Linked DNA regions of Homo sapiens: region 2 is linked to region 1. The links come from fine-mapping of genetic effects on gene expression. A gene starts in region 1. The other region holds a variant in brackets. All regions are shown on one strand. Distances are between the middles of the regions.

Evidence for each region. PIP is the estimated chance that this variant, and not a neighbour inherited with it, causes the effect. A credible set is the group of variants that fine-mapping cannot tell apart.
Region 2: its variant is the best candidate, but not a certain one, in a credible set for the expression of MAMDC4 in whole blood (TOPMed, PIP 0.50).

Annotation. Positions count from the first base shown.
Region 1 is chr9:136,850,723-136,855,097 of GRCh38, reverse strand. It overlaps MAMDC4 (MAM domain containing 4), which reads right to left and starts at 2,752. Exons shown (of 27, transcript NM_206920.3): 1 at 2,636-2,752; 2 at 1,889-1,996; 3 at 1,640-1,813; 4 at 1,428-1,553; 5 at 1,191-1,321; 6 at 1,022-1,106; 7 at 762-887; 8 at 422-559; 9 at 248-336; 10 at 1-161. The coding sequence starts at 2,681. PHPT1 (phosphohistidine phosphatase 1) reads right to left here. Exons shown (of 3, transcript NM_014172.6): 3 at 4,074-4,343. The coding sequence ends at 4,251.
Region 2 is chr9:136,885,567-136,889,941 of GRCh38, reverse strand. TRAF2 (TNF receptor associated factor 2) reads right to left here and starts at 3,426. Exons shown (of 11, transcript NM_021138.4): 1 at 3,401-3,426. MIR4479 (microRNA 4479) reads right to left here and starts at 3,209; the gene lies at 3,139-3,209. It overlaps LOC105376326 (a long non-coding RNA gene), which reads left to right and starts at 3,688. Exons shown (of 3, transcript XR_930448.2): 1 at 3,688-3,844. RefSeq lists enhancers at 1,994-2,729, 2,730-3,465 and silencers at 2,842-3,651, 3,872-4,001. The variant G/C (reference allele first, on the strand shown) is at 2,490.

The DNA of each region.
Region 1 (4,375 bases):
GCGCTCTGGATGTCAACACGGTCTCGGACCCAGGCGGTCCCCAGCTCCCCTCGGCGCCTCCGCAGCAGGACGGGGGCCCGGGGGGCGCCGGGCCCCAGAGTCTGCAGGAACAGCTGGAGGCAGCCAGCCTCAGACCCACTCAGGTACTGATAGAAGACCAGCTGTGGAACCAAGAGCTGGCTGGGGGCCTGCACCGGGGCAGCCAGCACGGAGAGCAGGGAGGCCCTGTGAGCCCCACCCATCTCACCGAGCAGTTGGAGGTGCCTGAGGCTTGGAATTCGGGGCTGGAGAGTATAGCAGGGGTGCCAGGCTCGGCCACGGAGACCAGGAAGGAGCCTGCGGGAAAGGACGGGAGTGGGCCAGGGCCACTGGGCTGTGGCTGCGTGGGCAGGGCCTGGGCCGGGTCCTCTGTGGGCCTCACCCTGTGCACTGTTCCGGCTGTGGTCACGGCGTGGCCAGGAGGGGCGCTCAGGACCACCAGCGCGGTGGTTCCGGGACCAGCCTTCCGAGCGGTTCCATGGGCCCAGGCCTGTCTCAAAGTCGGTGGCTATGTGGCGGCCTAGGGCAGGAGGTGGGCGTGTCAGGGCCACCAGGCAGTGCTTCCTGAAGCCGTATGGCCCCAGCTCCAGGGGGGCCCTGGCAACCACACCCCAAGAAGGACCATCCAAGGATCCAAGGCACCCCCTCCTGGATGAGTGCCAGGGCCCCCACCGAGGCGTCCAGTCTCCCAGCCTCACTCTGGGCCCCCACTCCGGCCTCACCACAGGTGAGTGGGTTCTCATCAGACAGGTCCCCGCAGTTGTCTTCCCCGTCGCACAGCTGCTGGGGCTCCACGCAGACCTTGTTCTGGCAGTGGTGGTGTCCCGGGGGACAGTTGGCCTGGGGGGCTGGGTGGGGCAGGGTTAACCCTTCACCGAGGCCCCAGGAGTGGGAGAGCACTCGGGGGCAGACAGGGTCTGAGCAGGGGAGTGGGCAGGTGGGGGCCCTCCCGGGGGTGGAACAGGAAGAGGCGGTGCCTTACTGGGCAGACCACAGTCCCAGAACTCTAGGTCATCTAGAGCCACAGCGCCCCTGTGGGTGGCATTTCGGGTGGCAGAGAAGGTCACCTGAAGAGAACAGGCTCTTAGGACCTAAGTCAGGGCCCAGACCCCTCCTCAAGGCCCCCACTCGTCCAGACCCTCCCAGCTCACTCGGAAGTCACCCCGGATGCGGCCTGTGGTCACTGCCAACTCCTGCCAGCCAGGGCCCCAGGGCCCTGTGCTCTGCCACAGGGTCAGGGTCTCTGCGCCATGGGTCAGCTCCACCCGCAGTTCAGCCACATCTGCAATGTCAGGGGTCCCAGGGCAGCTGCGGCCCTGCTTGTCCCCAGCTGCCCACCCGCCCTCCCCTTGGGCACCCCCCACGAGCCTTGGGGGTCCAGGGTGCACCTCCAGAGGCCGCGTGGTACCAGAGCCTCAGCTTGCAAGAGGAGGCTGCCTCTCGCAGGGTTGGCGAGCGCAGGGCTGCGGTGGATGCCTCTTTCCCTCGGTGGGTTCCAACGGCCATGTACCAGCCTGGCGCAGGTGAGAGGTCAGGAGACGGGGCAGGGAGCAAGGAGGGTATTGGGACAGGGGCGCACAGAGACTTGCCCTGGCCTCACCCAAGTCGGTGCCCAGTGTGTGGTCTGAGTGAGGCCCAGGACCCTCCAGTGCGGCCCCTGCCCTGTCTCGGAGCCAGCTGTAGCCTGAGGTACTAATGTCCCGCCAGCCGCAGGGGTCCTGCTCGAAGTCACAGGCGAAGGGGGCGCCCAGGGTGGGCGAGGCCCCGTGGTAACCTGGGAGAGTGGGTGGTCAGGTGTGTGCCAGACCTGCTCGCACTGGCCCTGCCCGCCCATCTGGTCTTGGCTCACCACACTGGGCCTCATCTGAGCAGTCCCTGCAGTCACACACGAAGTTGCACACGGCCTGGCCAGGGCTCCTGCAGTGGTTGGGGACCCAGGCCCAGCCTGAGGACCCTGCTGCTGGGAGGTTGACAGCCAGGTGGCCTGGGGGCAGGGTGACCAGCCATCCCAGCCTGCCTAGGACTATTCAGTTTTAGCACTGGACATCTTTTGTCCGGGGATGCCCCTCAGACCAGGAGATGGAGCAGGGAGGGGCTGGGACCCACAGAGAACTCCCACCCGGCTCAGGACCAAGCACAGCACGTTCCTGTTTCCAGCCCTGAAGAGGCTGGGGAGGGGGACCCGGCCATGGGGCACCCCAAGAAAGGTAGCAGGAACCCAGAGTGCCCAGCAGGGAACTGGGCACTGGGAGGGCGACCCCCAATGGGAGGCATCGACGGGCGGCCCAGGGCCTCCACAAGCTCCACCCAGTCCAAGGGTGGCAGATGAAGGCTGGCAGAGCTGGGGGCACCTCCTGAGCCCTCTTGTCCCAGACTGGGAGGGGAGTCGTGCCTCTTCCTTTGCTTGGCAGGCCCGAGGACCCCATGGGCTGATTCCAGGTCACCCCCCTTGCAGGCCGGCCAAGGTAGTACCTTGCAACCCTCCTTCCCTTTGGGGCTCAGGCATCAGCCCTGGTGTCCGTCACTGCCACACAGATGGTAGGCTCAGAAGCCAGGGCCCCTGGTCCTGCCTCAGGAGTGGGACCAGACTACTTACCCAGGAACAGGACCAAGGCGGGCAGCAGGTGGCTGGACAGAGGCATGGTTGGGCCAGAGGGAGCAGTGCGGCCACACAGGGTGCCTGGGAAGTTCCGTGCGGTTATCAGCCTGCGCTGGCCCCGCACGCTGACTCTGCTGTTAAGTGGAGGGCCCCTCGGCCCGGCCCCACCCAGTGCTGACGGTGCCAAGCATGGGCCGTGAAAGTGGCCCCAGGAGGGGGCCTCTGACCCAGGGTCAGCTCCCACCTGCCCGGCTCCCTCAGACACAAGGTCAGGCTCTTCCACCCTGCCCTGCCCTGCCTGGTGAAGGGGAGGCTCCCACTGGAATGGGGAGGGACCCAGGCACCCCACCAGGACTCTGCTCGGCAGTGTGGGGCGGGCAGAGGCCGCCGTGGCCTCTCACTGTGCCTCTGGCAATAGCGTGGTGCTGGCCAAGGTCAGGACTCAACCAGTCCAGCAGCTGCAGGAGTCCAGCACGTGCACCAGAGCTGGTCCCTGCGTTCTCAGCCGTGGGGAACCTGCCTTTAAGTCAGGCTGTGGAGGATCACGCCGTCATTCATTCGTCCTGAGCAGCCAGGTGCTGTCCGGTGCCAGATACAGGGTCCCTAGGAGCCCAGAAACTTCGGTTTCTCATGGAGCAGACTCATGCTTGGGGCAGGGTCTTTGGGGCTGGGGAAGGAGTGTGGCATTTGGGGCCAGGCCCTGTTTGTGATTTCCCATGGTGTGACCTCGGAGCTTGTGTCACTGAGCCTCAGTGTCCCGGTCTGTAAAATGTGGTTATGACAGTGCCCGTCTGGAGAGGCTGGCCGGAGGACCAGTGAGCTGACAAAGGTGGGGGTGCCCTGTGTACAACCAGCCCTGGCCCCCAGGGTGCCCCTGCACCACCCCATGGAGTCCCACTGTGTATGGGGCTTCCCAGGGCAAGGCCTGAACCCGTGTCCTGCCCACAGCCCTGCCGGGTGCAAGAGGGACCTGGGAGGGGCCTCCAGAGTCAACGTGAGCCTGTGGGGTAGATGCAGCTGTGCGACCTGACCCTGGATACTGGTAGGCCCCATGGGGCTGGTCATGGAAGGAGCCTGCAGGTCACGGAAGGAGCCTCAGGGCAGACAGGACACTGGGGAGCCCTGGGATGGGCTCATAGGAGGGAGCACTGGTGGGCGCCCCAGGTCTTGGCCAGCCCGAGGGACCAGGCCCTGACTCCTCTCGCAAGGGCTTGCCAGACCTCCTCCAAGATGCCCTGGAGGACGATGGCCGTGGGAAGAGCAGTCAGGCCATCAGCGGGCCCCTTTATCAGACCCCAAAGGGCTGAGTGTGCACCGCCACTCCCTGGGGCCACTCCTGTGTTCCCCCACCCACCTGCTTTAGTTAGGGTCTGGGGGCCCCCGGAGGTGGTGACGCAGGGTGCAGGAAGCCAAGGACAGAGTTCAGAAGCCGGCAGGTGTGGCAACACGTTTAATTCTGTGGCCAGGCTAGCCTGTCTCCAAGGCCTGGTGGACAGCACGTCACCAGAGGCTGCCGCAGGAGCAGGCAGGGCCAGCCCTGCAAGAGGAGTGCAGGCAAAGGCGGGGGCTCTGAAGTGGCTGCTGGAGGCAGCAGGCCCCGGGCTGGGAGTGCTCAGTAGCCGTCGTTAGCCCAGGTGACCTCGTAGTCGGGGTACTTGGCTTTGATTTTCTCAGTTGAAATGGCGTGCTGGGCAGGACCATAGGCCTGGAGAAGAGAAGACGCCTGCTGGCACTACC
Region 2 (4,375 bases), 35 kb before region 1:
CGCGGTGACGAGCTGAACAAGCATGCGGGGGTGATTATCACACATGCGGTGACCGACTGAATGAGCATGCGGGGATGACTGTCACAAATGTAGTGACCGACTGAATGAGCATGCAGGGGCGACTCTCACACAAGTGGTGACCGACTGAATAAGTGTGGGGGGAACTCTCACACATGCGGTGACCAACTGACACAGTGGCTTGCACCTGTAATCCCAGCTACTTGGGAGGCTGAGGTTGGAGGATCACTTCAGGCCAGGAGTTCGAGACCAGCCTGGGAAACATAACAAGACCTCAGGTATAAAAATAAAATAACAAAAAAGTTAAAATGGCAAAGAAATGTCAAAAACAGGTTTTAAGGCCGGGCAAGGTGGCTCATACCTGTAATCCCAGCACTTTGGGAGTGCCAAGGCAGGTGGATCACCTGAGGTCAGGAGTTCGAGACCAGCCTCACCAAAGTGGAGAAACCCTGTCTCTATTAAAAACACAAAAATTAGCCGGGCATTATGGTGGGTGCCTGTAATCCCACCTACTCTGGAGGATGAGGCAGGAGAATCACTTGAACCTGGGAGGCAGAGGTTGCAGCGAGCCGAGATCGCACCATTGCACTCCAGCCTGGGCAACAAGAGCGAAACTCTGTCTCAAAAAAAGAAAAAAAAAGGCCAGGCGTGGTGGCTCACACCGGGGGACAGAGCGAGACTCCGTCTCAAAAAAAAAAAAAAAACAGAAAAAACCACACAAACAAAAAAAGAAAAACAAACAAACAAGTTTTAACGTAAAAAAGCCCCTCAGTGGTGGCTCACACCTGTAATCCCAGCACTCTGGGAGGCCGAGGTGGGCGGATCACGAGATCAGATCGAGACCACCCTGGCTAACATGGTGAAACCCCGTCTCCATTAAAAATACAAAAAATTAGCTGGGCGTGGTGGCGGGTGCCTGTAGTCCAGCTACTCGGGAGGCTGAGGCAGAAGAATAGCGTGAACCCAGGAGGCAGAGGTTGCAGTGAGCCGAGATCGTGCCACTGCACTCCAGCCGGGTGACAGAGCGAGACTCCCCTCCACAGGAGAGTGGGGGCATCTGGCACCCTTGTTGCTGGTAGGGCCGAGCTGTGTGTTCCCTTCACAATGGGACACCCCCACAAGAAATCAGAGGCCTTCACTAAGCTGGAGTCATCAGGCAGCTGAGACCTGGCATCCTGACTCTGGTGTGTGAACATGGTTTGGTGGCATCGGTGACTCTCAAAAGGACAAGCTGTATTGTTACACAAGTCAAACACTGCCCAAACCATGACATCAAATCAGATATGGGTGCAACCTGGCCGCTGCAGGGGTCACCTAGTCGCCGCAAACGCTTGGGTTCAACCCAGGCCTCGCCCTTCTCACAAGCAGACTCCAAGATGCCCCAAATGCTGGAGATTCAAACCTCAATTCATGTCTCCACCAACAGCACACAACTGCTTCATACAATACTGGACTCCACGTAAGAGTTCACTGGGTGGCACCCGATTCTTTTTGAGATGGAGTCTCGCTCTGTCACCCAGGCTGGAGTGCAGTGGCGCGATCTCGGCTCACTGCAAGCTCCGCCTCCCGGGTTCACGCCATTCTCCTGCCTCAGCCTCCGGAGTAGCTGGGACTACAGGCGTCAATGGCACCTGATTCTAACCCACTTCTATAAAAGCTCATCTGAGTAATATTCAGGAACACTGATCTGCATGCAGCCATGAATATGAGGCCCTCCAAATACTAGAAGTTAACTTTAAAACTGTAATTTCATGGCCGGGCGCGGTGGCTCATGCCTGTAATCCTAGCACTTTGGGAGGCCGAGGCGGGTGGATCACCTAAGGTCAAGAGTTTGAAACCAGCCTGGCCAACATGATGAAACCCTATCTCTACTAAAAATACAAAAAATTAGCCGGGCGTGGTGGTGCACGCCTGTAATCCCAGCTGCTCGGGAGGCTGAGGCAGAAAAATCGCTTGAACCCAGGAGGCGGAGGCTGCAGTGAGCCGAGATCGAGCCACTGCACTCCAGCCTGGGCAACAAGACCAAAACTATCTCAAAAAATAAATAAATAAAATTACAATTTTATATGTAACCCCATCTTTTTCAGGCTCAAAATAATACCAAATAGAAGCTTGATAACAACCTAAACTCTTAACAACTGTTTATACAAAAGTATCAGAAGCAAGCGTGGTAGAAGAGGAGATCTTGAACCTTACAAGTGTCCACCCATTAATACATTCAGTTCCTCTTATTAAAAACTAGGGCTATTAACAGGGAGAGAGACTGAGTTACAGGGCAGTAATTCCGTCCCTTCAAAATCATGTGGCCACAGAGCAGGGTCCGTTCTCAGTCCTAGTTTCCCTTGACTTGACCCAGACCAGACTCCCTCCTCCTCCGAGCCCCGTCTTCACCGGCTGCCAGACACCCCACCCCCTGTCGGCCCTACACCGAGTGGAGGCTTGGTGCTCTTCTGCACTGACCCTCAGCCCTC[G/C]GGGCCTCAAAATGACAACTCCAAAATACCCAGCTCTGGCCCTGACCGTTCCCCTGACCCCAGGCTGCCCATCTGGCCGCCTCCCGAGAGGCCATGGGCGCTGTGACTCCTTCATCTTGGCCTAGGAAGCACCAGCCTTCAGCTGCTCACGCCAGATTCTTGCAGACATTGCAACTCCTCTTTTTCTCGGCTCTACCTTCCACAAACATCCCCTGCTACTGCCAGGACCAGGCCCCGGCCCCGATCCCGGCCCGGTCCACCGCAGCCCATCCCCGCACTGGCTCCTTGCTGCCCCCGACCCTCCCAGCAGCCAGAGGGACTTTTCACCCAGGCTCAGCCTGGGTCTCCCCAGCCACTGGGCAGGAAGGCAGCAGAGTCGGCTCCGCCCCCAGCCTCACTGGTCTTCCCCGACCCCTGGCTGGGGGGCGCTGGCAAACTCAGGGGTCGGAGGCGCCCCTGACCCTCCCGAGCACGCAGCCGGCTGAGGGTGCGGGGCTTCGGGGACACGAGGGGCCCACAGCTGAGCGTGGAGGGGCGACAGGGTGCGGGGGAGCGACGGACCCGGGACGGGGCAGGGCCGGGTGGGCCGCCCACGGGCCTCAGGCGGTACTGGGAGCCGCGACCCCGCGCAAAACCCCGGACCGTGCCCTGGCGCTGCTCCGAGCACGGCCGCGCGCGTTCCCGAACTTTCCCGCGCCAGCCACGCTCGGACTTGGTTTCCGGCCCAGCGGCTCAGAGAAATCCCCTCGGGCTGGCCCCGCCCCCGCCCCGCGGCCTCTCCCGCCCCCGCTCCCGCTCCGGCCCGGAGTCTCCCTGAGAGGTGCCCGCGCCTGCGCCCGACCCCGCGCCCGACCCCGCACCCGACCCCGCGCCCGCGCCCGACCCCGCACCCGACCCCGCGCTCGCCTCACCCAACGGTCGCAGCGCGCCCGGAACTAAGGGCCCGCCCAGCTACCGCCCCCAACGCCGCCGCCGCCGCCGCCGCTCCGCCGCGTGCGCCTGACGGACGGACATGGGAGCCAACCAGCCAGCCCTCAGGAAGCTGTAGCGAGAGCCATTGGCCAGATACGCCCCGCTCCGAGCGCGCCTGACGGACTGACGCCGGAGCCAACCAGCGAGCCCGCAGGAGCCGCAGCGTGCGCCGATTGGTCGGCGCTGAGACGGCGTGGGTACCTAAGTCGCCCTCTGCTTTTTCCTCAAAGAGCGCGCCGGGGCGTTGGTGCGGGGAGCTGGTGAGGTGCTGCGCTGTGGGGTCCGCGCTAATTGGGTCCCTTCCCCAGGTGCGGCGAGACAGCGAGGCCCTTGCTTCCCCTCCCGTGGCCCCGGGGCGGAGACCCCTGCCGCACACCCGAGAGGTGAGCCGGGAGCCCAAGCCGGGCGACACCGGTTCCCACGAGGCGCGCGTCGCGCGCGGGACGCGGGGCCCTGGCGGGGCGGCCGCACCTACCCGACACCTGCGGGTCCCTCCGCCTCCCCCGGTGCCGGGCGCAGAGCGGCGCCTCAATTTGGGTAACATTTATGAGAAACAGGACTAAAAGAATACTGCACACTTAAGTAAGGTATTAAGGCTATGGGGTCTCCTTTTGGGGTGAGGTAATGCTCTGCAACCGGACAGTGGTGACGGCCGCCCGACATGGCCGGTGTGCTAATCTACTGGGTTGTGCACTTTATTTATTTTTTTTTTTGAGACGGAGGCTCACTCTGTCGCCCAGGCTGGAGTTCAGTGGCGCGATCTCGACTCACTGCAACCTCCGCCTCCCGGGTTCAAGCGATTCTCCTGCCTCAGCCTCCCGAGTAGCTGGGACTACAGGCGCCCGCCATCACGCCCGGCTAATGTTTGTATTTTTGATAGAGACGAGGTTTCACCATGTTGGCCAGGCTGGTCT